Homo sapiens: one gene and its partners. The protein of the gene in region 1 purifies or fractionates together with the protein of each later gene. This does not show direct contact. Each region holds a gene or a part of one and is shown in the gene's direction. Other genes may lie near its edges.

Region 1 (7,024 bases):
ATTCTGCTGAGGGCTTATTCTAGCCAATGTCATGGCTTCTGGGGCTGCTCAGTGGACTTAGGGATTGTCTTCAGGGGCCCCAGAGTTAGAGTGAGTGTCCAGAGGATGCCTGACCTTTGTTCTGACCCTGAGATGATTTCTCTCATGTCTGGGTTGTGGCTGGGAGACTGGTGCCAAATCCTACCTTGTGCTTACAGGTATACCTTGTTAGTGGGCAAACCACCTTTTGAGACTTCTTGCCTAAAAGAGACCTACCTCCGGATCAAGAAGAATGAATACAGTATTCCCAAGGTGACTAATGATGCTTTAAGTTTACATTTATTTTGTTTTCCCCAGAAGCTGTTTATGGAGCCCAGCAATATCCTAGGACCAGAAATAGGTCTATCCCACCTCTAAGGTAGCCACAGAGCTTGAGAGGGCCTGTGTCTGAAATTGCATACAGAACTTGACATGTATGTGCACATAAGCATTTTTTCTAGGGGGAGAGAGTTGGCAGATTCTCAAGAGATTGGGTAACCCAAAAGTTGTGTAAAAAGCAAAAAACAAAGGAGGTAGGAAGGAGTAGGAGGCAAAAGTGCTTAATCTTTAGAAATGGTTTATCTTAATTCAAATGGATTCTGCCACTTAGCGAGATCACATTGGGCAAATGGCCTGCATCTTTTTTTTTTTTTTTTTTATTTGAGGTGGAGTTTTGCTCTTGTTGCCCAGTGCAGTGGCATGATCTTGACTCACTGCAACCTCCACCTCCCAGGTTCAAGCGATTCTCCTGCCTCAGCCTCCCAAGTAGCTGGGATTACAGGCACCCACCACCTCGCCTGGCTTTTTTTTTTTTTTTTTGTATTTTTAGTAGAGACGGGGTTTCACCATGTTGGCCAGGCTGGTCTCGAACTCCTGACCTCAGGTGATCCACCCGCCTTGGCCTCCCAAAGTGCTGGGATTACAGGCGTGAGCCACCATACCCAGCCTGGCCTGCATCTTCTGAACCATAGTTTCCATATATAAAGTGGAGTTCCTGCCTTGGAGCACCTCACAGAGTGCCTTGCATGTGGTGAGTGCTCTCAGAATTATGAATCACTGTGAATCCCAGGGCTTCCTAATGGCATAGTTGTGTGCATTTTCTTTTTTTTTTTTTTTTTTTTTTTGAGATGGAGTCTCGCTCTGTCGCCCAGGCTGGAATGCAGTGGTACAATCTCGGCTCACTGCAAGCTCTGCCTCCCAGGTTCATGGCATTCTCCCGCCTCAGCCTCCTGAGTAGCTGGAACTACAGGCACCAGCCACCATGCCCGGCTTCTTTTTTCTGTATTTGTGGTAGAGACAGGGTTTGACCGTGTTAGCCAGGATGGTCTCGATCTCCTGACCTTGTGATCCACCTGCTTCGGACTCCCTAAGTGCTGAGATTACAGGCGTGAGCCACCGCGCCCGGCCATGGTGTGCATTTTCACAACCACCAACAGAAATACATTTAAAGGAATAGCTGGTTCCTGCAGAAGCCTAGCACACAGCCAGTTTGAAGTGTAGTGTCCTTGTGTGAAGCCAGGAGGCCTGTCACCATAAGGACAGACATAGTAAATCCATCACAAAGTGTCAGTTCACTGTCAGAGACAGCATGGAATCAAGCCAGCTAGACAAGGCCTTCACCCTCTCTGTGCCTCACTTTCCTCCTCTGTGAAAAAGGGATGATAATAGATCCCCACCCCTTAGATGAGTTGGTGAGGGCTAAGTGAGCTAAACACAGGAGTGCTTAGAATGCTTTCCTGGCACATAGTGAGTGCTAGGAAAGTGAGTTGGTGTTCGGCCACAGTCCATTGACCCTTCTGTCAATGGTGCTCAGTAAAGCTGACAGTGGAGAACTTGGCATTGAACCAAGTTGTGAACCACTGACCTGTGGTGTATTTGAGACTGGGGGCTGCATGTGGGCTGGGGACCTGCAGCTCCTTTGAGGCCGTACTGTACTCCAGGTCCCCTTCACATTCTGCTTATGGCTGTCCCTCTCTCTGCCCCAGCACATCAACCCCGTGGCCGCCTCCCTCATCCAGAAGATGCTTCAGACAGATCCCACTGCCCGCCCAACCATTAACGAGCTGCTTAATGACGAGTTCTTTACTTCTGGCTATATCCCTGCCCGTCTCCCCATCACCTGCCTGACCATTCCACCAAGGTTTTCGATTGCTCCCAGCAGCCTGGACCCCAGCAACCGGAAGCCCCTCACAGTCCTCAATAAAGGTACAACAAGGGTCTGGGTAAGAGAGCAGACCCCCCAGAGAAAGCCCAGGTTGTAGGGGTGTGTGCAGCTTAGTCCCTGGCCCTGAGAGCTCAGGTGTGGAGTAGGACAGGCCTCTGTCCTTCAATCCGTGGTTCCAATGCCCATCTGCTTCTCGGCCCTGCCAGGAAAGACTGACCTTACCATGGCTGGATAAACGTACCATGCCCAAGAAGAAGAAAATGGATTGAATGCCAAGCCTGAAAAATTCTTTCAAATCACTTTAATTAATTTAATTTTTTGGAGACAGGGTCTCTCCTCTATTTTCCAGGTTGGAGTGCAGAGGCACAATCACAGCTCACTGCAGCTTTCAACTCTAGGGCTCAATTGATCCTCCCATCTCAGCCTCCCAAGTAGCTGGGACTGTCAGGCATGCACCACCATGCCTGGCTGACTTTTCTAATTTTTGTAGAGACAGTGTTTTGCCATGTTGCCCAGGCTGGTCTTGGAACTCCTGGGCTCAAGCGATCCTTTCACCTCCACCAAAGTGTTGGGATGACAGGCATGAGCTGCTACATCTGGCCTTTAAAAAAATTTCTAACACTTTTTCATGATTCATTGAAAAACATAAAAATTTCCTTTTTTTTGTGGCGTGATCCCGGCTCACTGCAAGCTCTGCCTCCCGGGTTCACGCCGTTCTCCTGCCTCAGCCTCCTGAGTAGCTGGGACTACAGGCGCCCACCACCATGCCCGGCTGTTTTTTTGTATCTTTTAGTAGAGACGGGGTTTCACTGTGTTAGCCAGGATGGTCTCAATCTCCTGACCTCGTGATCCGCCTGCCTCGGCCTCCCAAAGGGCTGAGATTACAGGCGTGAACCACCAGGCCCGGCCTTTTTTTTTTTTTTTTTTTTTTTTTTTTTTTTTTTTTTTTTTGAGACAGGGTCTGGCTCTGTCTCCTAGGCTGGAGGGGAGTGGTATGATCTCGATTTCACTAAGGATACATAGTTTTAAAAAGTCACTTGAAATACTTTTTTTCTCTGTGGATATATCACCAATTTGATGTACAACTTCAGTTCATTTTTCAGTTTTCAATTTTTAGGTATTGGTTTTTCTTAAACTTCATTTTGGAATAATTTTAGGCTTATACAGAAAAGTTGCAACAACAACAAAAAACTCCCCAGAGTTCCTACATACCTTGCAGCAATTATTACAGTGGAATTTTTTTTGAGACAGGTCTCAGGACTTGCTGTCACCCAGGCTGGAATGCAGTGGCTCACTCATAGCTTACTGCAGCCCCAACATCCTGGGCTCAAACAGTCCCCCTGCCTTACCCTCCAGAGTAGCTAGGACTACAGGCATGTGCCACCATACCCAGCTAATTAAAAAATTTTTTTCTTTGGGAGGCCGAGGTGGGTGGATTGCCCGAGCTCAGGAGTTCGAGATCAGCCTGGGCAACATGGCGAAACGCTGTCTCTACTAAAAATACAAAAGACTAGCCGGGCGTGGTGGTGTGCACCTGTAATCTCAGCTACTCGGGACACTGAGGCACAAGAATCACTTGAACCTGGAAGGCGGAGGTTGCAGTGAGCCGAGGTCTCACCACTGCACTCCAGCCTGGGCAACAGAGCGAGACTCTGTCTCAAAAAAAAAAAAAAATTTTTTTTTTGTAAAGACAAGATCTCACTATGTCGACCAGGCTTATCTCAAACTCCTGCCCTCAAGTGATCCTCCTCGGCCTCCCAAAGTGTTAGGATTTACAGGTGTGAGCCACTGTGCCCTGCCTAGAATGATGTTCTAATGGTAATTTTTCTTTTCCTCACTTTTTTTGCATTTAATAATTGGAATTCTTCTGTAAGGAAGAGCTGTTCCTTCTCTCCGATTGATTTATTTATTTGGTTATGTCTGAAATAGACTCATGGATATTTTTATTCTTTGGGCTATATTTTAAAGGATTACTTATTTCTCTGCTTTTATTTATTTTTTTAAATTTGAGACAGGGTCTTGCTCTGTCTCCCGGGCTGGAGTGCAGTGGCACAGTCGTACCTCACAGTAGCTTTGATCTCCTGGGCTCAAGTGATCCTCCAGCCTCAGCCTCCCAAGTAGTTGAGACTTTAGGCATGTGCCACCGCGTCTGACCAATTTTTAAATTTTTGGTAGAGATGAGGTCTTGCCCACACTGGTCTCAAACTCCTGAGCTCAAGTGATCCTCCTGCCTCAGACTCCTACTTTTTTTCTTTCAGTTTTAATTTTTTATATAGCATTTTAAAAACTTAAGGAAATTTTCAGTTACCCGAAGGTGGAGAGAACTGTATGATGAGTCCCATGTTTCATCTATTTTTACTAGTTATCAACATTTGGACAGACTGTTTTATTTATTCCAGCCTCCTGCCTTTTTTGTTACCGGTGTTTTAAAAAATTATTATTTACTATTTATTATTATTTATTTGAGACATTCTTGCTTTGTTGCCCAGGCTGGAGTGCTGTGGCAAGATCATGGCTCACTGCAGCCTCCACCTCCTGCGTTCAAGTGACTCTCCCACCTCAGCCTCCCAAGTAGCTAGGACTACAGGTGTGCCACCATGTCCAGCTAGTTTCTGTATTTTTAGTAAAGACAGGGTTTTGCCATGTTGCTCAGGCTGGTCTCAAACTCCTGAGCTCAAACAATCTACCTGCCTCGGTCTCTCATAGTGTTGGGATTACAAGTGTGAGCCACTGGGCCTGGCCTTGCTGGAGTGTTTAAAGCAAATCCCTAATATCTTATTATTTCATACCCAAGTCCCTATCATGACATCGTTTTTTAATTGAAAACTTAAACATTTTATATTATACAAGGAGAATTAGCACATGGTGGTGGGGGAATAAATAAATAAGGAAAAAGACAATAAGAATAATCTGTGTTTCTACTGCCCAGATATAATCAGCGTTAAAATTTCATGTTATCTTTTCAAGCTTTTTTGGTTATAAATAAGCATATAAAGCAAATTTTGGGGTGGAAAAAAATTTCTTGTGTTTTTATTTAAATGCCTACTGAATCCATTCTGTGGATGAACTGAACTACTCAGCCCTTCCATCTGCCTGGATGCTGAAGATGCTTTCCATTCTTTGCTCAAAGCTGGGCAGCTCTGAGCTGCTGGTGCCTTCAAGCTGTTTGCCTGAGTGGCAGGTCATCCTGCAGGGCCACACCGTTGGGTCAGAGGCCACGGCTTCTGAAGATCTGTTGCCTCACAGTGAGCACTATGTGCCTGTCACCTGAGCATGGCAGCTGCTGCTCTAGTAACCAGGCACTGATTCAGTTTCCCCAAAGCAGTGGTAGCTAAGAGAATTTTTCTTTCGGAAGAGTTTCAGCTGTGGCAGGGGAGTCCCGTGCCCTTCCCAACGCCCCTGTTTTTGTCACCTTCCTAGGCTTGGAGAACCCCCTGCCTGAGCGTCCCCGGGAAAAAGAAGAACCAGTGGTTCGAGAGACAGGTGAGGTGGTCGACTGCCACCTCAGTGACATGCTGCAGCAGCTGCACAGTGTCAATGCCTCCAAGCCCTCGGAGCGTGGGCTGGTCAGGCAAGGTGGGTACTGCGGGGCCCTGGGCGGGGCAGGATTGCTTGGGGCATCTGGAAAAGGCAGGAGGAGGCTTGGCCAACAAAGCACTGGTGACTTGTTCAGGCCCTGTCTGCATAGGACCATTGGTTTCCCCATTTCCTGATATCCAAGGCCCTGCTTCCGTGGCTCCTGCCGCCTTTTCTGATCCGTCTTTTTTACTCTAGCACCTCGATGTGCCACCTTCATACGCTGTTTCTTTTGCTCAGTAAGTTCCTATTGTATCTTCAAGACCCTTGAAATAACAGACCCAGATGTACTGCAGCCTCAGGGCTTTCTCCCTGGTCCTGGCACGAAAGCACTTCTTCCAGACACCACATGGCTCACACTGTGGCCTCCTTCAAGTGTCTGCTCCAGTGTCAGCTCTGTGAGCATCTCCCTGGCCCCTCTGCTGGTGCTTCTCATCCTCTTGCCCACTGCATAGTTCTCCATAACACTTCTCACCCAACATAGTCCAACATGTCCTTCTTTGTTTATTGGATTTAAATTAAGGGGTTTGTTGCATGCACTGAACGTAACATTTTGATGTGTTTGCAACTGGCTTCTGTCTTCACAGTTTCTTAATTACTCCAAACTGGAAAACTAGATGCCTCTGACTCTTACCATGATAGAAGTCACTGATATTTTGCCCATACTTAAATTGATTAGTCTTTGCCCCTACAACCACAGTGTAAGCTCCGTGGAGGCTGGGGTTTTGTCTGTTGCTCACTGAACCTGCAACAGTGCCTGGCACGGTAGGCCTTCAGTAAATGGGTCAGTGGAATGAAGGAGTGAGTGGAACTTGGTGCGCTGTGCTGAGACTTTCTCTGCAGAGATATCTGTGCTGCTGCTTGTCTGAGCCTGCTGGCAGCAGAGGCCCTGCTTTGCTCTTCTCTGGGGCCCTAGGCCTCTCAACTGAGCCCAGGTGGGGTGCCCAGCAGGCTTCCCTGTTCCCTGGTGTGGGCCACATGTGTGGAGCAGAGGGGAAGAGGCTGGTCCTGACCAACTAACTGTCTGTCTGTTTCTGTCTCAGAGGAGGCTGAGGATCCTGCCTGCATCCCCATCTTCTGGGTCAGCAAGTGGGTGGACTATTCGGACAAGTACGGCCTTGGTAGGTTTCTTCCAGAACAGGTGGGTGACTCAGGCACAGCCAGGTGACCTTTTCAGTTGTTACAGACTCTGGCCTTTTTGAGCTCCCAGGTACTGTTCTCAGTGCCCTCCTCTCTCCATCCCAGGCCTCCCAGTTCCAGCTCCCA
Region 2 (6,700 bases), on another chromosome or scaffold:
GAAATGAATTAGAGAAAACTAAAGGAAAGTATAAGAGTAGAGGCTTTGATGAGGACCAAAGCCTTTTTTGGAAGGTTTTTTTTTTTTTTTTTTTTGAGCCGCCCAGGCTGGAATGCAGTGGCGCGATCTCGACTTACTGCAACCACTGTCTCCCGGGTTCAAGCGACTCTCCCATCTCAGCCTCCTGAGTAGCTGGGATTATAGACACCCACCATCATGCCCGGCTAATTTTTGTATTTTAGTAGAGATGGGGTTTCACCATGCTGGCCAGGCTGGTCTTGAACTCCTGACCTCAGGTGATCCGCCCGCCTCAGCCTCCCAAAGTGCTGGGATTACAGGTGTGAGCCACCGTGCCTGACCTTTTTGGAAGGTTTGTAAGGAACAGGGGTGGGGTTGAGAGGAGGCCACCAGCCAGTCTCATTAGATAGGTATCTCAGGCAGCCGCATCAGCGTGCGGGATTGCTTTTGAAACTGGACTAAGAGGTTTGAGTCAGACTCAAGGAAGTCTTTGGAGCAGCACTGTGCCCCTGAGGGTGCGTTAGGGAGAGGAGAAATAAGGAAAGGGGATTGAGTTTGGAGATTTCTTAGGTGTCGGAGTGAGTTCTTTCAATGTAAGAGAAGACCTGAACAGGGCAGGAGAAAGTCAACATCCTGGAGCCAGGTGAAGATTGGGAGAAAGTTTGATGGGGGTCGGGGTGGGGATGGTTGGTCCAGCTCACTGACCTCTACCTTGTCGCTTGGCAGGGTGGTGAAGGAAGAAATTTCAGATGACAACGCCCGCCTCCCCTGCTTCAACGGAAGGGTGGTATCCTGGGTAAGAGGTTCTGACACCGAGGACCAGGCCCCCTCAGCATTGCCAAGCTCCCTCAAGCCTCAGTCTGTTTCTGTATCCTCCCCAGGCCGCGCGTTAGCAGCCCTGGCTCTTTACCTCCTGTCTGTTTGGAGAGCCGGCGAGAGGCCCTCAGCCTTCTCCTTCTGGAGTCTCTAATACTTGCTAGGTTTTTTTGCTCTTCTCCAGCTCTCTGAGACCCTTTCTCATTCTTTCACTTACTGCCACCTGTCACACCCTGACTCCCAAGTGAGCCACTGTTTATCATTTGCACCCTTCTAGCTGGTGTCCTCAGATAATCCCCAACCCGAGATGGCCCCTCCAGTCCATGAGCCTCGGGCAGAACTGGCGCCTCCAGCCCCACCTTTACCTCCTTTGCCACCCGAGAGGACCAGCGGCATTGGGGACTCAAGGCCTCCATCCTTCCAGTGAGTCCTTCAGATTCTTGACTGCAGGGGAGGGAGGTGAGGAGGGAACCCAGGCCTTTGGTAGGGGACGCCTAGGATCCGGAGCCCTGTTCTCCTGATGTGGGTTGGAAACCATCTCTGCCTGTCCAGCCCTAATGTGTCCAGCAGCCATGAGAATCTGGAGCCTGAGACAGAAACCGAGTCAGTAGTGTCACTGAGGCGGGAGCGGCCTCGCAGGAGAGACAGCAGTGAGCATGGCGGTGAGGGGCAGGCCTGGGGGCCGGGAAGGGCTGGGCCAGACCCCAGCCTTGGTGGGGTGAGCAGGGGGAAGCTTGGTTCTTGAGCTTCCTGTCCATATGTAGCTGGGGGCCACAGGACTGGTGGCCCCTCAAGGCTGGAGCGCCACCTGGCCGGATACGAGAGCTCCTCTACCCTCATGACCAGCGAGCTGGAGAGTACCAGCCTGGGGGACTCGGACGAGGAGGACACCATGAGCAGGTGTGGCTCCGCACAGCTCTCCCCAGCGCACCCAGCCCCGTCTCGTCTTCCAGTCAATCCTCTTGTTCTTTCTCTTGGCCCCATGACCACTTTGGCCTACGTTTGCTCTCCTTCCCAACCTCCTGGTAGGTTCAGCAGCTCCACGGAGCAGAGCAGTGCCTCCCGCCTCCTTAAGCGCCACCGGCGGCGAAGGAAGCAGAGGCCACCCCGCCTGGAGAGGGTGAGGGGTTCCTACAGGAAGGCTGGTGCTGGGAGAAGGTGGGGCATGGGCTTTGGTTTGGGCGGTGCCAGGACACCGGCAGCACCCCAGGGTTGACCCTGGGTTATTGAAGGGCACTCTGGCTCCTTTTCCCACCACAGACGTCATCCTTCAGCAGCGTCACAGATTCCACAATGTCTCTCAATATCATCACAGTCACGCTAAACATGGGTATGGGGAGAGCCTGTGGCTAGGGCGTGGGGAGGGCCTGGTCTCTAGGGTTCCGGGCGTCCTGTGGCAGGGGCTCCTCTTTTCACATGGCCTCTCTCCACAGAGAAGTACAACTTCCTGGGTATCTCCATTGTTGGCCAGAGCAATGAGCGGGGAGACGGAGGCATCTACATTGGCTCCATCATGAAGGGTGGGGCTGTGGCGGCCGACGGGCGCATTGAGCCAGGGGACATGCTTTTGCAGGTGTGCTGGGGTAGGGCCACTGAGCTGCCCTGCACGGGGGCCCTCAGCCTCTCCCACCGTGTCTCTGACCCACTTGCCGTCGCTTCCAGGTGAATGACATGAACTTTGAGAACATGAGCAACGATGACGCTGTGCGGGTGCTGAGGGACATTGTGCACAAGCCTGGGTGAGTTGCCAAGCAGGTTGCCGGTCCTCAGTCCTCTTTTTTTTTCTCTTTCATGTTTTGTTTTGGAATTTTAATAAGTACTAAGACAGCCGGGCGTGGTGGCTCGAGCCTGTAAACCCAGCACTTTGGGAGGCCCAGATGGGTGGATCACCTGAGGTGAGGAGTTCGAGACCAGCCTGACCAATGTGGTGAAACCGTGTCTCTACTAAAAATAGAAAAATTAAGTGGGCATGGTGGCACATGCCTGTAGTCCCAGCTAGTGAGGTGGCTGAGACAGGAGAATCACTTGAACCCTGGGGGGTGGAGGTTGCAGTGAAACGAGATCACGCCACTGCACTCCAGCCTGGGCGACAGAGCAAGACTCCGTCTCAAAAAAAAAAAAAAGTGCTAAGACATAACGTTCAAAGTACATGAAACAAATGCATGACATAGCAAATAATACTAGAGTAAATATCCATGTCACTGCCATCTAGATCATCAAATAGGAGATTGCTGATACCCTAGAACTTCCTCCTCAGATGTCCCTTCCTGCTCCCAAATGCCTCACTGCCCCAGGGGTAGTCACTCTCCTGACTTCTTTGGCCATCACCATAACAAAGAAAAGCTTTGCCTCACTGGATAGTTACCACCCTTGCACGTATCCTTGAACACTGCAGTTTCGTTTTACCTGTTTTTGGACTTTCTGTGAATGGAACTGTACAGCGTGTACTCTCTTGTCTCACTTGGCAGTATGTTTTTAAGAGTTTTCCATGTTGATGAGTCATCCACATTGTGGTGCCTTCCACCCTCACCTTCTCTAGCCCAGCCGCGATGTGCTTGCTTCTCCCCCTCTTTGTGTCTCTTAATCCATCCTTGCTTCAGACCCCCGCCCTCCTGAGGCCTCCTCTTCCCCTGCGCCCTTGACTGGACTTCTCTTCCCCATAGCCCCATTGTGCTGACTGTGGCCAAGTGCTGGGATCCCTCTCCTCAGGCCTATTTCACTCTCCCCCGAAGTGAGTGACACTCAGGGAGGGGCCTGAAGTTGGGGGTGGGGGCTGCCCAGGAGGCTGGGGCCGGGCCTGTGGTCATGGGGAATGGGTGGGAGGAGGGTCCAGGCAGAGGTGGAACAGGAGGCTGAGTCAGGGAGGGACTGGGCTGGCTTTTGGGGACTGAGAATGGGTCATTTTGGTGCCATCTTTGTCCCAGATGAGCCCATCCAGCCAATTGACCCTGCTGCCTGGGTGTCCCATTCCGCGGCTCTGACTGGCACCTTCCCAGCCTATCCAGGTTCCTCCTCCATGAGCACCATTACATCTGGATCGTCTTTGCCTGATGGTGAGCCGCCAGCCCACCTCATCCCACCCTCCCAGCAGAAGGCTGTCCCGCAGTGGTCTGATCCATTGCCCTTGTGGGAGCGATCCCTGACTCTGGTTACCCGTTGTCTCCTCTGCCAGGCTGTGAAGGCCGGGGTCTCTCCGTCCATACGGACATGGCATCGGTGACCAAGGCCATGGCAGCTCCAGAGTCTGGACTGGAAGTCCGGGACCGCATGTGGCTCAAGATCACCATCCCTAATGCCTTTCTGGGTATGGCTGGGTCCTGGGCAGGTGGCTGGAGAAGGGGAGGAGGTGGTGACCAAAGCCAGGAATGGCACAGGCAGAGGCGAGAGCAGGAGTTGGAAGAAGAACCTGAGGCCTTTTTCCACTGTGGGTGCTCCCAGGCTCGGATGTGGTTGACTGGCTCTACCATCACGTGGAGGGCTTTCCTGAGCGGCGGGAGGCCCGCAAGTATGCCAGCGGGCTGCTCAAAGCAGGCCTGATCCGACACACCGTCAACAAGATCACCTTCTCTGAGCAGTGCTATTACGTCTTCGGAGACCTCAGTGGTGGCTGTGAGAGCTGTAAGTCCCCCTGCCCCAACTCTGGGAGTGTGGCTTTGCCTACCTTGTTCTGCCTCTCCAACCCTAGACCTAGCCCAGAAACCGCAGCCAGGGCCACCATGGATGGTCGAGCAGTGTGTGTCCCGCACTAGGTCCTGCACTGGCCGAGGATGGGGGCTGACGTCCACCCATGTGCTGCTGGACAAGCCATGTGCCAGGTGCAGGACTGTGTCCACCGGGGGAAGGTGCACCTCTTACCTGAGTCCCGCAAAGACGTGGGCTAGTGGCTGTGCCCCTGCCCTCATGGCAGAAGTAGATGGGAGTTTCTTGTCAGAGACCCTTGTGAACCCCTGTTTTGAGCCCCATCGTGGGTGGGTCTGGGAGAACTGTTCCCAGTTCCTCTCCATTCGGTGTCTTGGGGCCCTAGCCTCTTGAAGCAGTGATTTCTTCCTCTCTTCCCTTGCTTTCCAGACCTAGTCAACCTGTCTCTCAATGACAACGATGGCTCCAGTGGGGCTTCAGACCAGGATACCCTGGCTCCTCTGCCTGGGGCCACCCCCTGGCCCCTGCTGCCCACTTTCTCCTACCAATACCCTGCCCCACACCCCTACAGCCCGCAGCCTCCACCCTACCATGAGCTTTCATCTTACACCTATGGTGGGGGCAGTGCCAGCAGCCAGCATAGTGAGGGTAAGTCATCCCCACATACCTGTACGGCCAGGATCTGAGGGTGGATGAGAGGGGAGCCAGGGAGGAGCCTGGGTGAGGACTCAGTTGCCCCTCCCCTCCCTCCACAGGCAGCCGGAGCAGTGGGTCGACACGGAGTGATGGGGGGGCAGGGCGCACGGGGAGGCCCGAGGAGCGGGCCCCCGAGTCCAAGTCCGGCAGTGGCAGTGAGTCTGAGCCCTCCAGCCGAGGGGGCAGCCTTCGGCGGGGTGGGGAAGCAAGTGGGACTAGCGATGGGGGCCCTCCTCCATCCAGAGGCTCAACTGGGGGTGCCCCTAATCTCCGAGCCCACCCAGGGCTCCATCCCTATGGACCGCCCCCTGGCATGGCCCTCCCCTACAACCCCATGATGGTGGTCATGATGCCCCCACCTCCACCTCCAGTCCCTCCAGCAGTGCAGCCTCCGGGGGCCCCTCCAGTCAGAGACCTGGGCTCTGTGCCCCCAGAACTGACAGCCAGCCGCCAAAGCTTCCACATGGCCATGGGCAATCCCAGCGAGTTCTTTGTGGATGTTATGTAGCCCACTGTGGGGCCAGGCTGGGCCGGGCGCTCCTGGTGTGTGACTGGGTGTCCTGGCCGTCATGTGCTTGCTCTTACAGTGCCTGGGCTCAGCCTACCAGCTGCTGCCATACAGGAGATTGTGGCCACTGTGACTCTCACCAGCAGTGCCTGGTTCCTCCCCCTTCCCTCAGGGGTAGACAAGGGACCTTTGATTATTTTTAGCTTTGTTTTTTTATAAGCCTTTTTGGGGGTTAAAATAGAGTTTCTTACATTTTTGGGACTTTTTTAATAGGCATTTCCTCTTTTATATGAAGAATTCCCATCCATTGGGCCCCTTCTAACCCCAGAATGTGACCTCCTCCTCCAGTTACCCACAGCCCTGCCCTTTGCAGGGTTGGGGGTGGTCAGCGGTACCCCGGGGTTAGGCATCCTAGACAGCAGCCTGAGGAAGCTGGGAGATTTGGGCCATGTAGCTGCCTTTGTTACTCTATTTATTTTAGTCACTTGTATAAAACACCAAATAAAGCAATAGAGGCAAACTCCCCACGCCTCTGGCTCCTTTCTTTGGGAGGGAGGCAGGCAGCAGGGGGAAAGAACCGTCACACAGGAGCAAAGCATGACTGGCTAGAAATTTTTATTATTTGCGAGGCAGTAAGTGCTCTTGAGAGCAGGCACAGTGCTGGGAACACTAGGCCCCTTCGGGACAAACCAGGGCCTTAAGGAAAGGGGCTTCGGCTTTGGCTTGAGGGAAGGCACATAACTGGGACAGGCCCTGGCCGGGAGTATTCAGAAGCCAAGTGGGTTGCTGGTGACCACACCACCCCGCTCCACCAAGGCCTTGGAGATGCTTTTGAAGTTGCGGTAGAGCTCTTGCTGCCAGGGGTCAGACTGCAGGGCGGCCATGCCCTCTCGGATCCGAGCTGCAGCCTGGGGAGAGGGAAGGAGGGGTTGGGCCTGCACCTCCAGCCCTCACCTGAGCTTGGCAGCCCCGAGTCTCACCTCGATACACCAGGTGTCACAGAGCATTTTCTCATGCTGGGCC
Region 3 (7,270 bases), on another chromosome or scaffold:
GAGCGAGACTCCATCTCAAAACAAAAACCAAAGCAAATTGTACATTCATTTATTTATACGTATTTATTCATTTACAGCATTGGAAACAAACATAAAACTCTATAACTCAAAAAACCTATTTTTAGTTTGGCTTTAATTTTGAGAAATATTATCTATGTAGTAAAATATAATAATAAATATTCATATTCCCACCACCCACATTGTAAAAGTAACTATTTTGTCATATTTGTTTCCTGTGTTTTCTTTCCCGTTCTTTTTTTTTTTTTTTTTTTGAGATGGAGTTTCGCTCTTTTTGCCCAGGCTGGAGTGCAATGGTGCAATCTCGGCTCACCACAACCTCCGCCTCCTGGGTTCAAGCAATTCTCCTATCTCATCCTCCCGAGTACAGGCGCCTGCCACCATGCCTGGCTAATTTTTTTTATTTTTAGTAGAGATGGGTTTCTTCATGTTGGTCAGGCTGGTCTCGAACTCCCGATCTCAGATGATCTGCCCACCTCGGCCTCCCAAAGTGCTGGGATTACAGGCATGAGCCACCACTCCCGGCCTCCTTTTCCATTCTATAAACAGATAAAGTTGCCCATAATGTCACCCCAAGCAGGGTCTGGAGAGACTGGCTCTAGGTGACAGAAGTGCCAGAGAAACAGGAAACTGATCCTAAATGCCAGGAAAGTGAGGGAAAAGTTAATTCCCTACCCCAACTACATTTTTTTTTCTTTTTCTTTTTTCTTTTTTTTTTTTTTGAGATAGGGTCTCACTCTGTTATCCCAGGCTGGAATGCAGTGGCATGATCATGACTCACCACAGCCTTGACCTCCTAGGCTCAGGTGATCCTCCCACCTCAGCCTCCTGAGTAGCTGAGACTACAGATGCCCGCCACCACGTTCAGCTCATTTTTGTATTTTTTGTAGAGATGAGGTTTCACCATGTTGCCCAGGTTGGTCTCAAAGTCTGGGGCTCAAGCAATCTGCCCACCTTGGCCTTCCAAAGTACTAGGATTACAGATGTGAGCCATAGCACCCGGTCCCCAGCTTCTTTTTTAAAAAAGTTTGTAAATATTAGAGATGGGGGTTCTTGCTACGTTGCCTAGGCTGGTCTCGAACTCTCAGCCTCAAGTGATCCTCCAGCCTGGGCCTCCTAAAGTACTAGAATTACAGGCGAGAGTCACCACGACCGGCAAATATGGAATGCTTCACAAATTTGCATGTCATCCTTGCACATGGGCAATGCTTATCTCTGTATCATTCCATTTTTTTTTCAGTAAACATGCTGCCAAAGTAAGCACCGAAACCTCAGCTTCCGAGGGCATATCATAACCTTTCCCTGTTTTCACCAAAGTCTTCAGGGACCACAAACCCATATACAGTTAGTTCCTTGTATCTGTGGGTTCCACATCTGAGGAGGTCAACCAACCGGGGATCAAAAATATTCAGAAAAAAAATACAATTTTTATGTAAAATTTGCCATAGTAGAAAAAATACAACAATAAAAAAACAAAATTTAAAAATACAGTATAACAAACGTTTACATAGTATTTACATAGCATCAGGTATTATAAGTAACCTAGTGATTATTTAAAGTACATGGGAGTGGCCAGGCGCAGTGACTTATGCCTGTAATCCCAGCACTTTGGGAGGCTGAGTCAGGTGGATCACGAGGTCAGGAGTTAAAGACCAGCCTGGCCAACAAGGTGAAACCCGTCTCCACTAAAAATGCAAAAATTAGCCGGGTGCGATGGCAGACGCCTGTAACCCCAGCTACTTGGGAGGCTGAGGCAGGAGAATCGCTTGAACCCCGGGGGTGGAGGTTGCAGTGAGCAGACATTGTGCCAACTGCACTCCAACCTGGACAACAGTGAGACTCCGTCTCAAAAAAAAGAAAAAAAAAGTACATGGGAGTATGTGCACAGGTTATATATAAGGTACTTGAGCATCTTCAGATTTTGTTATCTGTAGGGGGCCTTGGAATCAATCCTCCGTGGATACTAACCATTTCACCCTTTCCTGAAGGACTGCTGTTCAAGCAAACTTTAATGTGTACCAAAATCACCTGAAGGGCACAGATTGCTAGCCCTACCCCAAGTGCTCCTGACTTAATAAGTCTGAAGTGGAGCCCAAGAATTTTCATTCCCCCAAAATTCCCAGGAGATGCCGATGCTGCTGGTCCAGACACTACACATCAGAACCACTGCTTTATCCATTTTCCAGGAGTAGATACTAGAGACAGACCCTCTCTGCTTATCTGGAGACACAAGATGGGAGAACTTGCCCCCTAGTGGTGAACTCTTACTCTAAAGACAGGTCACTCCTCTGGTATCAAGTTCCGGCTGGGTAAAAGCTAAAGGGTGCATTTTCTTCATCTTCATTAGCAGCATCTATGAATCTCCTTCTCTTGTGAGGTCTCTACTTGGCCCAGAAATGCCAGGAATGGGCTCCCTCCCCGGTGTGGAACTTCACACAGAGATGGGCAGACAGCACGTGCCCAGGAGCAGTGTGGTGTGTCAGGAAAGGCACGGGCAAGTGACACAGTCCCTGAACTTCACTTTCCCCATCTCCATAACATGAGACAATGATACCCATCTATTATAGGGTTGCTGAAAAGAGTAAACGGGAATAGTGTGAGCAGGAGTCCCATGTTAACTGTAAAGTGCCCTAGAAATATTAATTGTTATTACAGATTCAGGTCAGATTTGCACCTTAACAATTAACTGTGGTTTCTTTTTTTTCCCACCTCTAGTGATTTTTGTTTTTTTGCTTTTAAGGCTTTCTTCACCCTTCCCCCAGCAATAGGCCTTTACCTTTGAGCCCCAGTGTTAATTGATTCTGACTCATTTCTGGTAAAAAAAAAAAAAAAAAAAAATTAATGATATTTATTAAAGCACAGTAAGACAGATTTTATTCCGGACCATCAGGATAGGTATAGCAACCATGGCAATGGGATTCTGAATTAGGAGAGAGAGAGTGGGCTCAACTCTAAATACACCATGGGCAAGTGGGAATTTATAGCCAAGGAACAAAAAGCTTGGGGTCACTGGATAAAAAATTACTAAGAAGGAACTTCAGGAGTAAAGGGGTTTCTTGCTGAAAATAGGTCAAGGTGATCAGACATCACCTTGGATGGTAGAGGATGAGGAACCTGATCAGATATTGAGGGTAGAGGGTTCTAACTGGATTTTCCAAGGAAATGCACAGATAAACCTACGAGAAGGTTGAGGAGTCTGACTAAAGTTTGGCCAAGCAAAGAATCTTTGTCACCTTCCATCGGTGTATTCAAAAACTTAAGACTCAAGCTGCTCATTACTATCTTTAGGCTCTAAAAAGAAAAGAAAAACAAAAACAATCAAGGGACATGGCATTATACTTTTACATTAGTAAATCCAAAGTCATTTTCTCAATCTCAGCAGTGAATAATAAAATGATCCTCATTAGTATAGTGGCTAGATTTTATAAAATAAGAAAAAATTTTTTTAAAAAAGAATAAAATGAAAAGAAGCAACAACGAATCAGTTTTCCGCTGGTTATCACTAAGGTTTGCAGGCCCATCTTATCCCCTCTCCCTTTGCTCTCTGCCATCTGAATCTTAGGTTCAGTCCCAGAATCTCCCCAGTACTGAGGCAGATGCAGAGAAAGAGAACGGCGATGTCCACTGAAGGGGAGGAGGAGGGGAGACCATTGAAGATCTTGACAAAGATCCCTTTGCATTAGCTGTGTAATAAGTCATCCTTTCTTCCCTTGCCATCTTGTGGCTGTGTTAGGCGGTGATTCTATTCCTGCTGTGTTGGAGGGAAACCACCCAGTCCGTAGTCAGAAGACCTGGATGCAGTATTAATTCTACCACCTACTAGCCGTGTGCCCTTGAACCCATCATTTAACTTCCTCCGTTTTTACATCTACAAAATGGAACTACCACTATTTGCCTCACGGAATTGTTTTGGATAATACCTTTTCCCGTGCATGCCTGGTATAAGACAGGTGTAAAATAAATATCTATTGAGGAAATCCTTTCTTTCCCTGGCTTTTTTAACAGTAAAGGAGTATTCCTGGCCTGTGGTCCTACCTCTTGAACCGACGGCGCTGGGCCTACTCGCAGCGGAGACTAGGCCCGCCCAGCAAAGCCCTAAACCCAAAGGGTCCGGCCCAAGCTTTCCCTGAAGCCCCACCGCCCACAGACTGCTCACCTCCACGTTTGACATTTCCGCTCTTCTGCTGCAGCTGCCGATGGCGTCACTTCCACCGGAAAAGGCAAGCGCGGCCGCGCGGTTGGCGCGAAAGTCGGTTCCCGTTCTGGGCAATTTCCGGGTTCTCCAGCGTTTGCTTTGGGGTAGGGGCGGCGCCGAGTCGGGGGAGGGGGCTGTGCGCCGGGCTGGCGCCCGACCCCAGCCACCGCCCTGCGGCCAGCGCGTCCCCCGACTCGCCGCCCGGAGACCCCGAGGCTCCAACGAGGTAAGTGAGGCGCGGAGTGGGGACACAGCTCCTCCCCAGCCCCAACTGGGGTTCGCGATGCCTTCTGTGGCCTTCAGGACCCTCTTTTCCTGTCCTGGTAACTGGCCCTGGAGCCGGCGGGTGGGCCTTTGACGCCGAGAGGACGTGGCTTCCGTGATCCCAGAGCCAGGCCTTTTCCTGGAGATGGGAACCGGAGCATCTAGCCTTATGCAGGGCCAAGACCATGCTAACTGGCTTCCATGTTTATATTTAAAATCTGTTTACTGAGGGATGAACGTACCTCGCAGGCCGTGGGTATCCGCAGGGACAGATACACTCTGTGTATCCTTAAAACAAGTGCAATTGAATGTCCATTGGCCTAAAGGGCTTAGAGCCTTCATAGCAGGGCCTTCCTCAGTGTATTCAATTCGGGTTAATTTTGCTGTCTGATTTGCAAGGATTGGTGTTGTCATCTTTTACCTTGGCTTTGTCCAAGTTCCAGGATTTCTTAGAAATGCCGTTGACGAATTCACGGGCAGAGCCAGAATGTCTGTCTTTAGGCATTCTTGTCTGCACAGAAAAATAGGTAGGTTAAACATGCAACTTTTTATCTAATGTGGTTTTGTTCTTGTTAATGGTTCCTTTATTTTGACAGTTCAGAAATGTCCAGAAATGACAAAGAACCGTTTTTTGTGAAGTTTTTAAAGTCTTCAGACAATTCCAAATGTTTTTTTAAAGCTCTCGAGGTAAGAGTTGAAAACATCTTAATACCGTGAATTCATTTTCTTGTTTTTAAGTGTTTTTGATTTGTTGGGCTTTATGTCTTAGAAGTAGATATTTCACTTTCATAATAATTTTATAGTCTACATTAATACAGATATATCATTATCACATATTTTTGAATTGATCTAAGTACATCATTATGTATTTCGGGGGGCTGGAAGTCTATTATCACATTGCTGTTTAATATGGCTGACCTACAGTTCTTGGAAATTAAGTTGCTTTCATTTGTCTCCTAGCCAGAGTGGTCCTTTGCGTGCTGTAGAAATTTGAGTCAGTTGTGTACTGGTCATACTTGAAAATTTTTTGGTTAATTGTTAAAAATTATGTTTTATTATGTACAGTATAATAATTGGATGATAGTAGGGGTGATGTAGATCCTTGCTTCTCACAGAACCCAGCAGTATCAGCATGGCCTGGAAGTTTCTTCGAAATGCAGAATCTTGGCCTCCAACCCAGACTTAGAATCTGCATTTCTAACAAGATCTTCAGTGTGCATTAAAGTTTGAGAAGCATTTGTAGCAGATTTTTTTAAACTTCATTCATTCAGCAAGTATTTATTGAAGTGTTCATGATTTGATAGGCACTTCTCTAGTACTTGGGATTTATCAGTGATGAGAACAGGCAAAGATTTCTGTTCTTTCAGAGCTTACATTCTAGCAGGAGGACATAGACACTAATCAGACATGATAAATTAGGAAGAGAAAAAAGCAAAACACGTTAAGGGGTTCCAGAGGATGTTTCTTGGGGTGGGAAGAGAAGGGGGTTATAATCTTAAATAGGGTGTGATCAGGGTAGGCTTTATGAAGAAAAAGATATTGAGTAAACGTGAAGGAGGTGAGATAGCCTTGCAGATATCTGGAGAAGAATGTTGCAGGCAGAGAGAGCAACCTTATACAGCCCCTGGGAAAGTGCCTGTAGTCTCTATCCAAGTTTAGTGTACTGTTGTGTAGTGAGTGAGGGATGGGGGAAGAGTACTAAGGAATGCGTTAGAGAATAATGGTAAAGAGGTCATGTAGGGCCTTGTGGGCCATTTTTCTCTCAGTGGAGAGCCATTGGAGGGTTGATAATCAGAAGAGTAAACATGATCTGACTTACAGTTTTAAAGGGATTACTGTATTTAACATAAGGACCTCAAAATTGGTTCAGAACATTTCTGAGTGCTTACTGGGTGTCAGGATATAGTAGCAAACAAGATACATAGAAACTTCCAGGGGAGAGAGACAAAAACTATATATATATATATAAATACGTATTTTTAAATAGAATAGACTAGAAGGGTAGAGGAAGGGTATTTGAGAAAGCCTGATTAGGATGGGCATCTCTGGGGAGGTGACATTTAAGCAGACCTGATTGAAGTGGGGGATTAAGTCAGGTGAAAACCTGGAAAAAAAGTATTCTGTGCTGCAAGATCAAGAGCAGAGCCTCTAAATGAGGTTATGGTTGGCTTGTTCCAGGGTTGGCAAGAAAGCGGGAGTGGCTGGAATAGAATAAGCAAGAGAGATGAGAAGTAGGAGGTAAAGGTGGAAAGATAGGCAGGAAACCAGACTGTGTTGTCTTGAAGGCTGTAGTAAGAAATGTGGATTTTATTCTGGGTGTGGTGTGAAGACATTAGGTTTTGAGCAGATAGTGACATGATCTGACTTGTGTTTTTGAAAAGATTATTAGCTGCTGTGTAGAGAACAGATTTAGGGCAAGGAAGGGAAAAAGAGACCACTTGGGAGCCTTCTGCAGAGGTCTAAGTGAGATGTGATGGTGGCTTTCAATAGGGAAAAGGCTGGATTTGAGATGGAATTTGAATAGGACCTAAATACAGGAGAGTAATTTCAGGTACATTCTTATTTTATTTTTTCTTTCAGTCCATAAAAGAATTCCAATCAGAAGAATATCTTCAGATTATTACAGAAGAAGAGGCATTGAAGATAAAGGAGAATGATAGATCACTTTATATCTGTGACCCTTTTAGTGGCGTTGTCTTTGATCACCTCAAAAAGGTTTGCTGACTTCTAGTGTGTACCTTTGGTAGTCTATTTTTTGGTTTATCTTTGCTTTAATGGACATACATTCTTTGC
Region 4 (7,024 bases), on another chromosome or scaffold:
GTGTGGTGGCCCACACCTGTAATCCCAGCACTTTGGGAGGCCGAGGTGGGCAGATCACCTGAGGTCAGGAGTTCGAGACCAGCCTGGCCAATGTGGCAAAACCCCGTCTCTACTAAAAATACAAAAATTAGCTATTACATAAAATTATTGAGATTTTATGTAATAGTTAATTATTGAGCATGCCTGTAGTCCCAGCTACTTGGGAAGCTGACGCAGGAGAATTGCTTGAATCTGGGAGGCAGAGGTTGCAGTGAGCCGAGATCGTGCCACTGCACTCCAGCTTGGGTGACAGAGCAAGACTCCATCTCAAAAAGTAATAATAATATTAAGTTTGGACCAGAAATTCACACAGTTACTTCACTAAGCACATTGTTTTGTTCAGCTGACATATCTTTTGTAGGACTTTCTAGATGAAGGAAGCAGTACATTGCATTGCATTCTGGAGGAAGTTTGCTATCTCTGTGAGCACCTTGAATAGCACTCCTTAAGTTGCAATTTCAGCATGATAATCAGTAGGATGTCCGAAAGTTGTGGTTTACCAACAGGGATTACTGTGGGATTCAGAGAAGAGAAGATAGTTTCATGCTAGGGTGGTCTTTGAATGCTTTAAGGACTGGGCAAAGTTTGACATGATGCTTAAGAATTCTCTAGGCAGAGAGATTCTGCAGGGCAATCCTGTGGATAAAGAATGAAAGAATCAGCCGTGTGTTGAGAATGTAGAGGGTGTGATGGGAACCATGAATCTGAGGAAAATAGGAATCTAGAAAAGTAGCAGTGTCATGAACCTGAAGAAGTAGACTGGAGCCAAATCATAGAGGCCTGAACCCAGATAAAGGAATTTGGAGATTATTTTTGGAGGGAAAACAATTAAAGCACTTGACCCAGAGGAATGACCCAATCAAAGTATGTTTTAGGAAGACTGGTCTGACGTTGCTGTGCAGGCTACAGTTTCACTGGGAAGAAGAGAGAGGCAGAGATTTGTTGGGAAGCTGTTTGCAGAGTTTCCAAGTAAGGTGATAAAGTCTTAACTACAGTAATGGTGGTAGGGGGAAAGAAATAAACCAGATTCCAGAGACATTTCTAAAATGATTCACATAACTGAGACTTACAAGGCACAGGGAAGAACCAAAAACAACCAAGATATGACACTTAAGCAAATGAATAGGAAATATATGACCAAATTCATCAATTTTCAGATTGCCTTGTGTACACATGTATCTAGTATTGTGCTAGCAATACCACAGTAAGGAAACCCCAGTTTCCTTTCTATATAAAATGAAAATTTTAGTTCACCCATCCAGCTGCTAGGGCGTTTTATAATTAGGGCCAGGAAGAAGAACTGGATTAGGCTAGGAAGTGAATTTGTCTCAGGTTAGAGAAATAAGAGTTTAATTGTTTTATATTTTAAATGGCTTTCTCTTTCCCAAGGTGCTGATAGCTTATTGGATATAAGTTCTGAAGCTGACCAACAAGATCTTCTCTCTCTATTGCAAGCAAAAGTTGCTTCCCTTACCTTACACAATAAGGAGTTACAAGATAAATTACAGGTATATAAATAGATTGCTATCATGGACTATTCTGTAGAGTCAAGCTCTTGGTCTTTTCAGTAGTCAGATGTATTTTGTTTTAAATGTGTACATTAGTTTCTTTTTAAATATTAGCTTTAAGCATCTTATAGTTTCAGATTATTTGTTTCATGAGAGTGTTATTCATTAACTCTTTCTGTAAATTATTCAACTGGTAAATTATAAATAATTATACACATAGTATGATCAGTATTAAATATTCTATATGTTTAATAAATTATATAAATAAAACAAAATTTATAGAAAAAATTCTATATAAAATATACTATATGCATAGAATGATGCATAATATATAATTTTATATTTTGATTTTATATATATTAAAATTTTACGTTTTAAATTATATATGTATGTGTGTATGTATATATATATATATATATATATAAAATATTATCCATTTAGTAAAGTTGATCATTTAACAGGTTTAAGTACTTGATAAGAAATGGCTGTACCAAAAAATAAGAAGAAGAAATAGCTGTACTATATATCCATTACCCCTCTTGGCAAGTAGAATGATATAAGAAATAAAGGAAATTTTTGAATTGGAGGCTTTGTAGAGAAAACAATTTTAGTGTTTTCAAAGTGACACAAATCGTCTGTCCCAATAGAACCCAAAGCAAGCTTTGTGTCATTAGTCCCACTCATGTCCCAGACTGTCTTTTTTCATGGCATGAGAATACACAGGCAAAGTGATCATGCTACTCTCCCGTACCAAAGTTGCGGATTTACTCCTCTCATTCTAGTTGCTTGCTTAGCTAACCACGCCTTTGGTATCTTTTTTTTTTTTTTTTTTTTTTTTTTTTTTTTTTTTTGAGACGGAGTCTTGCTCTGTCGCCCAGGCTGGAGTGCAGTGGCGCGATCTCGGCTCACTGCAAGCTCCGCCTCCCGGGTTCACGCCATTCTCTTGCCTCAGCCTCCCGAGTAGCTGGGATCACAGGCGCCCGCCACCACGCCCGGCTAATTTTTTGTATTTTTTTTTAGTAGAGACGGGGTTTCACCGTGTTAGCCAGGATGGTCTCAATCTCCTGACCTTTGATATCATTTAATTCTTGCTTTTTTTTCCTAGGCCAAATCACCCAAGGAGGCGGAAGCAGACCTAAGCTTTGACTCATACCATTCCACCCAAACTGACTTGGGCCCATCCCTGGGAAAACCTGGTGAAACCTCTCCCCCAGACTCCAAATCATCTCCATCTGTCTTAATACATTCTTTAGGTAAATCCACTACTGACAATGATGTCAGAATTCAGCAACTGCAAGAGATTTTGCAAGATCTACAGAAGAGATTAGAGAGCTCTGAAGCAGAGAGAAAACAGCTACAGGTCGAACTCCAATCCCGAAGGGCAGAACTGGTATGCTTAAACAACACTGAGATTTCAGAGAACAGCTCTGACCTCAGCCAGAAACTTAAAGAAACTCAGAGCAAATACGAGGAGGCTATGAAAGAAGTCCTTAGTGTGCAGAAGCAGATGAAACTCGGTCTTGTCTCACCTGAAAGCATGGATAATTATTCACATTTCCACGAGCTGAGGGTCACGGAAGAGGAAATAAATGTGCTAAAGCAGGATCTGCAGAATGCATTAGAAGAAAGTGAAAGAAATAAAGAGAAAGTGAGAGAGTTAGAGGAAAAACTGGTAGAGAGGGAGAAAGGTACAGTGATTAAGCCACCTGTGGAAGAGTACGAGGAAATGAAAAGTTCATATTGCTCTGTTATTGAGAATATGAATAAGGAGAAAGCATTTTTGTTTGAGAAATACCAAGAAGCCCAAGAAGAAATCATGAAATTAAAAGACACACTAAAAAGTCAGATGACACAGGAAGCCAGTGATGAAGCTGAGGACATGAAAGAAGCCATGAATAGGATGATAGATGAACTCAATAAACAGGTGAGCGAGCTGTCACAGCTGTACAAAGAAGCCCAGGCTGAGCTGGAGGATTACAGGAAGAGGAAATCTCTAGAGGATGTCACAGCTGAATATATCCATAAAGCAGAGCATGAGAAACTGATGCAATTGACAAACGTGTCCAGGGCTAAAGCAGAAGATGCACTGTCTGAAATGAAGTCTCAGTATTCAAAAGTGTTGAATGAGTTGACCCAGCTCAAACAACTGGTGGATGCACAAAAAGAGAACTCTGTCTCTATCACAGAACATTTGCAAGTGATAACCACGCTGCGGACTGCAGCAAAAGAGATGGAAGAAAAAATAAGCAATCTTAAGGAACACCTTGCAAGCAAGGAAGTGGAAGTAGCAAAGCTGGAGAAACAACTCTTAGAAGAGAAAGCTGCTATGACTGATGCAATGGTACCTCGGTCTTCCTATGAAAAACTCCAGTCATCCTTAGAGAGTGAAGTGAGTGTGTTGGCATCGAAATTAAAGGAATCTGTGAAAGAGAAAGAGAAGGTCCATTCAGAGGTTGTCCAGATTAGAAGTGAGGTCTCACAGGTGAAAAGAGAAAAGGAAAATATTCAGACTCTCTTGAAATCCAAAGAGCAAGAAGTAAATGAACTTCTGCAAAAATTCCAGCAAGCTCAGGAAGAACTTGCAGAAATGAAAAGATACGCTGAGAGCTCTTCAAAACTGGAGGAAGATAAAGATAAAAAGGTTGGTGAAACTGTATTGCTGTTGGGTTTCTAGCAATAAGTCTTAGTCTCTTTGGCTTTTACTATATTAAATATTTCTAGTGTTGGCACTAAACTGGAGTGAATGCTCAGAGGCTCTGCACATGAACTTTATCTGTCACCAAAGCCACATTAAGAATAGTTTGTTGGGTCGGCCGGACGTGGTGGCTCACGCTTATAATCCCAGCACTTTGGGAGGCCGAGGTGGGTGGATCACTTGAGGTCAGGAGTTCAAGACCAGCCTGGCCAACATGGTGAAACCACGTCTCTACTAAAAATACAAAAATTAGCTGGGCGTGGTGGCACACGCCTGTAATCCCAGCTACAAGGGAGGCTGAGGCAGGAGAATGGCTTGAACCCAGGAGGTGGAGGTTGCAGTGAGCCAAGATCAGGCCACTGCACTCCAGCCTGGGCAACAGAGTGAACAGACTTCATCTCAAAAAAAAAAAAAAAAAAAAAAGAATAGTTTATTGGGTATTTGTATTTTAAAAACACATCTGCTGGGCATAGTGGCTCACTCCTCTAATTCCAGCAGTTTGGGAGGCCATGATGGGAGGATGGCTTGAGACCAGCCTCAGCAATATAGTGAGACCCCATCTGTACAAAAAATTTAAAAATTAGCCAGGCATGGTGGTATGAGCATGTAGTCCCAGCCACTTGAGAGGCTAAGGCAGGAAAATCACTAGAGCCCTACAAGTCAAGACTGTCATGAGCCATATCAACACCACTGCATTCTAGCCTGGGCAACAGAGTGAGACCCTGCCTCAAAAAATAATCAATAAGCAAACATCAATCTTCGGCCACTTCTCCTTATACTAAAGCATTTTCATATATCTGTCCTTTAAAAATCATTTTACAGAAGCTTTGCCAGTATTGGGGATCAGAAGTGAACCTGCAAACTGGAAAGTATTTGTGATCCACCTCAAACTTCAGGTTCTTTTTTTGGATTCAGAACAGATTCCTCCATAATATGAAACTAAAATACTCCTAGACTTAATCCTGTTTCCCTAAGGTCCATGAGCTTCCCCTCAAGTCACTGTAAAAGCTACCCTCGCCGGTCCCTCCTTTGACAGGTATATAGGAGAGGAAGGGGGAGGAATGTGGGGAGCCGGCAATTTGAGATGGCGCTGGACACAAGAGATGGTGCTGGCCGTGCTGCTGGAGGAAGGAGGGAAGCAAAGGGGAAGTTCAGGGGGATGGTTCCACGCCTCAATCGGCTCTGCATCTCTAGTCCCCTGTCTCGGAGGTTCCGAATAGCATTCATGAGAGACTACTTGTCTTTATTCTTTTGTAATGAGTGTTTCAAAAGAGCTTTATCATCCAGGGGAACAGGGATTAGGGAGTGGTGGGGTACGGTGAGGAGTTAGTTGTGTTTACTTTAAAGAAAGACGTCCAGAGATATCAGGCTTCCTAGACCTTATTCCTGATCACCCATGTCAGCAGTATTGGACAAAATATAGCTGTCTCCAAATAAAAGCGGAAATCCTAATTCTGATTTTTTTTTTCAATCATACCCATTTTAAGAGTAAAAGTAGGAAACCAACATCACAGCTTTTGTTACCGCCATCACCAAAACATAATATGTAATTCAAGGGCCTTTATCTGAACCTAATGGATGTAGCGGGCTTTGTTAGTTTGCCTGATTTTGTCATCCATTTCATTTTATGAGTTTTTTAATTTAAATGTATTAAAAAGGAATTGTTCCAAAGTCTTAAGTCCCAGAGGCCAAAAGAGATGACTATGTTTGAGGCTTACAAATATATGAAATTTTGCTTTGTAGACATGTTACTGTCTGCTAATACCATTTTCCTTTGCCCCTAGATAAATGAGATGTCGAAGGAAGTCACCAAATTGAAGGAGGCCTTGAACAGCCTCTCCCAGCTCTCCTACTCAACAAGCTCATCCAAAAGGCAGAGTCAGCAGCTGGAGGCGCTGCAGCAGCAAGTCAAACAGCTCCAGAACCAGCTGGCGGTGAGTGGGCTTGTTTCTGCTGCCTGGTTTGGGGTGGAGGGCCTGGCAGATTTCCTACCATCTCAGCTGCTAGGGCAAGTGGGCGTGAACAAAAAGATTCCCAGCCCAAAGGAATGTACTTCAATGAGCAGTTGACTGATTTCTTCAGTGAGGGCAAAAGAGGGAGCCACTGGTGGAATTCCTGGTCGTTATCAGCAATGCAACGGGTCAGATATTCACTGGGAAGGAAAGAACCGACAGGACAGTAGGAGGAGGCTATGTGCTCACTCATACCCTAACTTTTTACCCCTTCTCCTTTTTCTGCAACAGTCTTTCCCCATCTCTGGCAGTGGCAAGAGCTTTTTCTTGTTAGGGGCCAGGATCTCTAGTAGTTGCATCTCTATATATCTGAAGCTGCTTCTTGGCCCCTCTCCTTATTTCACCCAGGAAAGCCCTTGCTTATCTAAATTTGTTTCCTGGGTCCATTGTAACAAATCACCACAAATTTGGTTTAAAACAACATGAGTGTATTATTTTACAGTTGCATTGAACTGAATTCCAAAATCACTTTCACTGGACTAACTTCAAGTTGTTGGCAGGGCTGGTTCCTCCTCGAGACCATAGGAGAAAATCAATTTCCTTGCCTTTTCCAGTACCAGAGGCTGCCTGCATTCTGTGGCTCATGGCCCCTTACTCCATCTTCGAGGCACATCACTCCAGCATCTGCTCAGTCTTCCCATCTCCTCCTTCAGCCTTTGATTTTCTTGCCTCCCTCTTATAAGGGCTCTTGTGATTACATCTAAAGCCCACCTAGATAATCCACGATAATCTCCCTCTCCATCTCAAACCCTTAATTTCATCTGCAAGAT

The links.
Region 2: the proteins of PLK1 (region 1) and DVL2 purify together in Homo sapiens (affinity purification with mass spectrometry; 6 studies listed by BioGRID and IntAct, with this or other methods). This does not show direct contact.
Region 3: the proteins of PLK1 (region 1) and TOPBP1 purify together in Homo sapiens (affinity purification with mass spectrometry; 5 studies listed by BioGRID and IntAct, with this or other methods). This does not show direct contact.
Region 4: the proteins of PLK1 (region 1) and RAI14 purify together in Homo sapiens (affinity purification with mass spectrometry; 6 studies listed by BioGRID and IntAct, with this or other methods). This does not show direct contact.

The regions. Positions count from the first base shown.
Region 1 is NC_000016.10:23,681,867-23,688,890, forward strand, and holds part of PLK1 (serine/threonine-protein kinase PLK1), read left to right. Parts: intron 1-197; coding exon 198-291; intron 292-2,003; coding exon 2,004-2,223; intron 2,224-5,602; coding exon 5,603-5,758; intron 5,759-6,801; coding exon 6,802-6,879; intron 6,880-7,024. UniProt on the Homo sapiens protein: Serine/threonine-protein kinase that performs several important functions throughout M phase of the cell cycle, including the regulation of centrosome maturation and spindle assembly, the removal of cohesins from chromosome arms, the inactivation of anaphase-promoting complex/cyclosome (APC/C) inhibitors, and the regulation of mitotic exit and cytokinesis.
Region 2 is NC_000017.11:7,224,842-7,231,541, reverse strand, and holds the end of DVL2 (segment polarity protein dishevelled homolog DVL-2), read left to right. Parts: intron 1-347; exon of another isoform or gene 348-661; intron 662-744; coding exon 745-814; intron 815-1,111; coding exon 1,112-1,257; intron 1,258-1,386; coding exon 1,387-1,496; intron 1,497-1,598; coding exon 1,599-1,734; intron 1,735-1,863; coding exon 1,864-1,954; exon of another isoform or gene 1,955-1,992; intron 1,993-2,094; coding exon 2,095-2,164; intron 2,165-2,267; coding exon 2,268-2,407; intron 2,408-2,496; coding exon 2,497-2,573; intron 2,574-3,497; coding exon 3,498-3,565; intron 3,566-3,758; coding exon 3,759-3,887; intron 3,888-4,006; coding exon 4,007-4,138; intron 4,139-4,272; coding exon 4,273-4,452; intron 4,453-4,583; coding exon of another isoform or gene 4,584-4,612; exon of another isoform or gene 4,613-4,655; intron 4,656-4,902; coding exon 4,903-5,121; intron 5,122-5,228; coding exon 5,229-5,677; 3' UTR 5,678-6,200; downstream 6,201-6,700. Other genes in the region: ACADVL (very long-chain specific acyl-CoA dehydrogenase, mitochondrial), read right to left, coding at 6,445-6,585, 6,658-6,700.
Region 3 is NC_000003.12:133,658,938-133,666,207, reverse strand, and holds the start of TOPBP1 (DNA topoisomerase 2-binding protein 1), read left to right. Parts: upstream 1-4,695; intron 4,696-4,861; coding exon of another isoform or gene 4,862-4,982; intron 4,983-5,073; 5' UTR 5,074-5,080; coding exon 5,081-5,164; intron 5,165-7,057; coding exon 7,058-7,192; intron 7,193-7,270. Other genes in the region: uncharacterized protein LOC124909487, read right to left, coding at 3,160-3,309, 4,175-4,695, 4,862-4,982. UniProt on the Homo sapiens protein: Scaffold protein that acts as a key protein-protein adapter in DNA replication and DNA repair. Composed of multiple BRCT domains, which specifically recognize and bind phosphorylated proteins, bringing proteins together into functional combinations.
Region 4 is NC_000005.10:34,820,304-34,827,327, forward strand, and holds part of RAI14 (ankycorbin), read left to right. Parts: intron 1-1,428; coding exon 1,429-1,547; intron 1,548-2,652; coding exon 2,653-4,188; intron 4,189-6,026; coding exon 6,027-6,176; intron 6,177-7,024. UniProt on the Homo sapiens protein: Plays a role in actin regulation at the ectoplasmic specialization, a type of cell junction specific to testis. Important for establishment of sperm polarity and normal spermatid adhesion.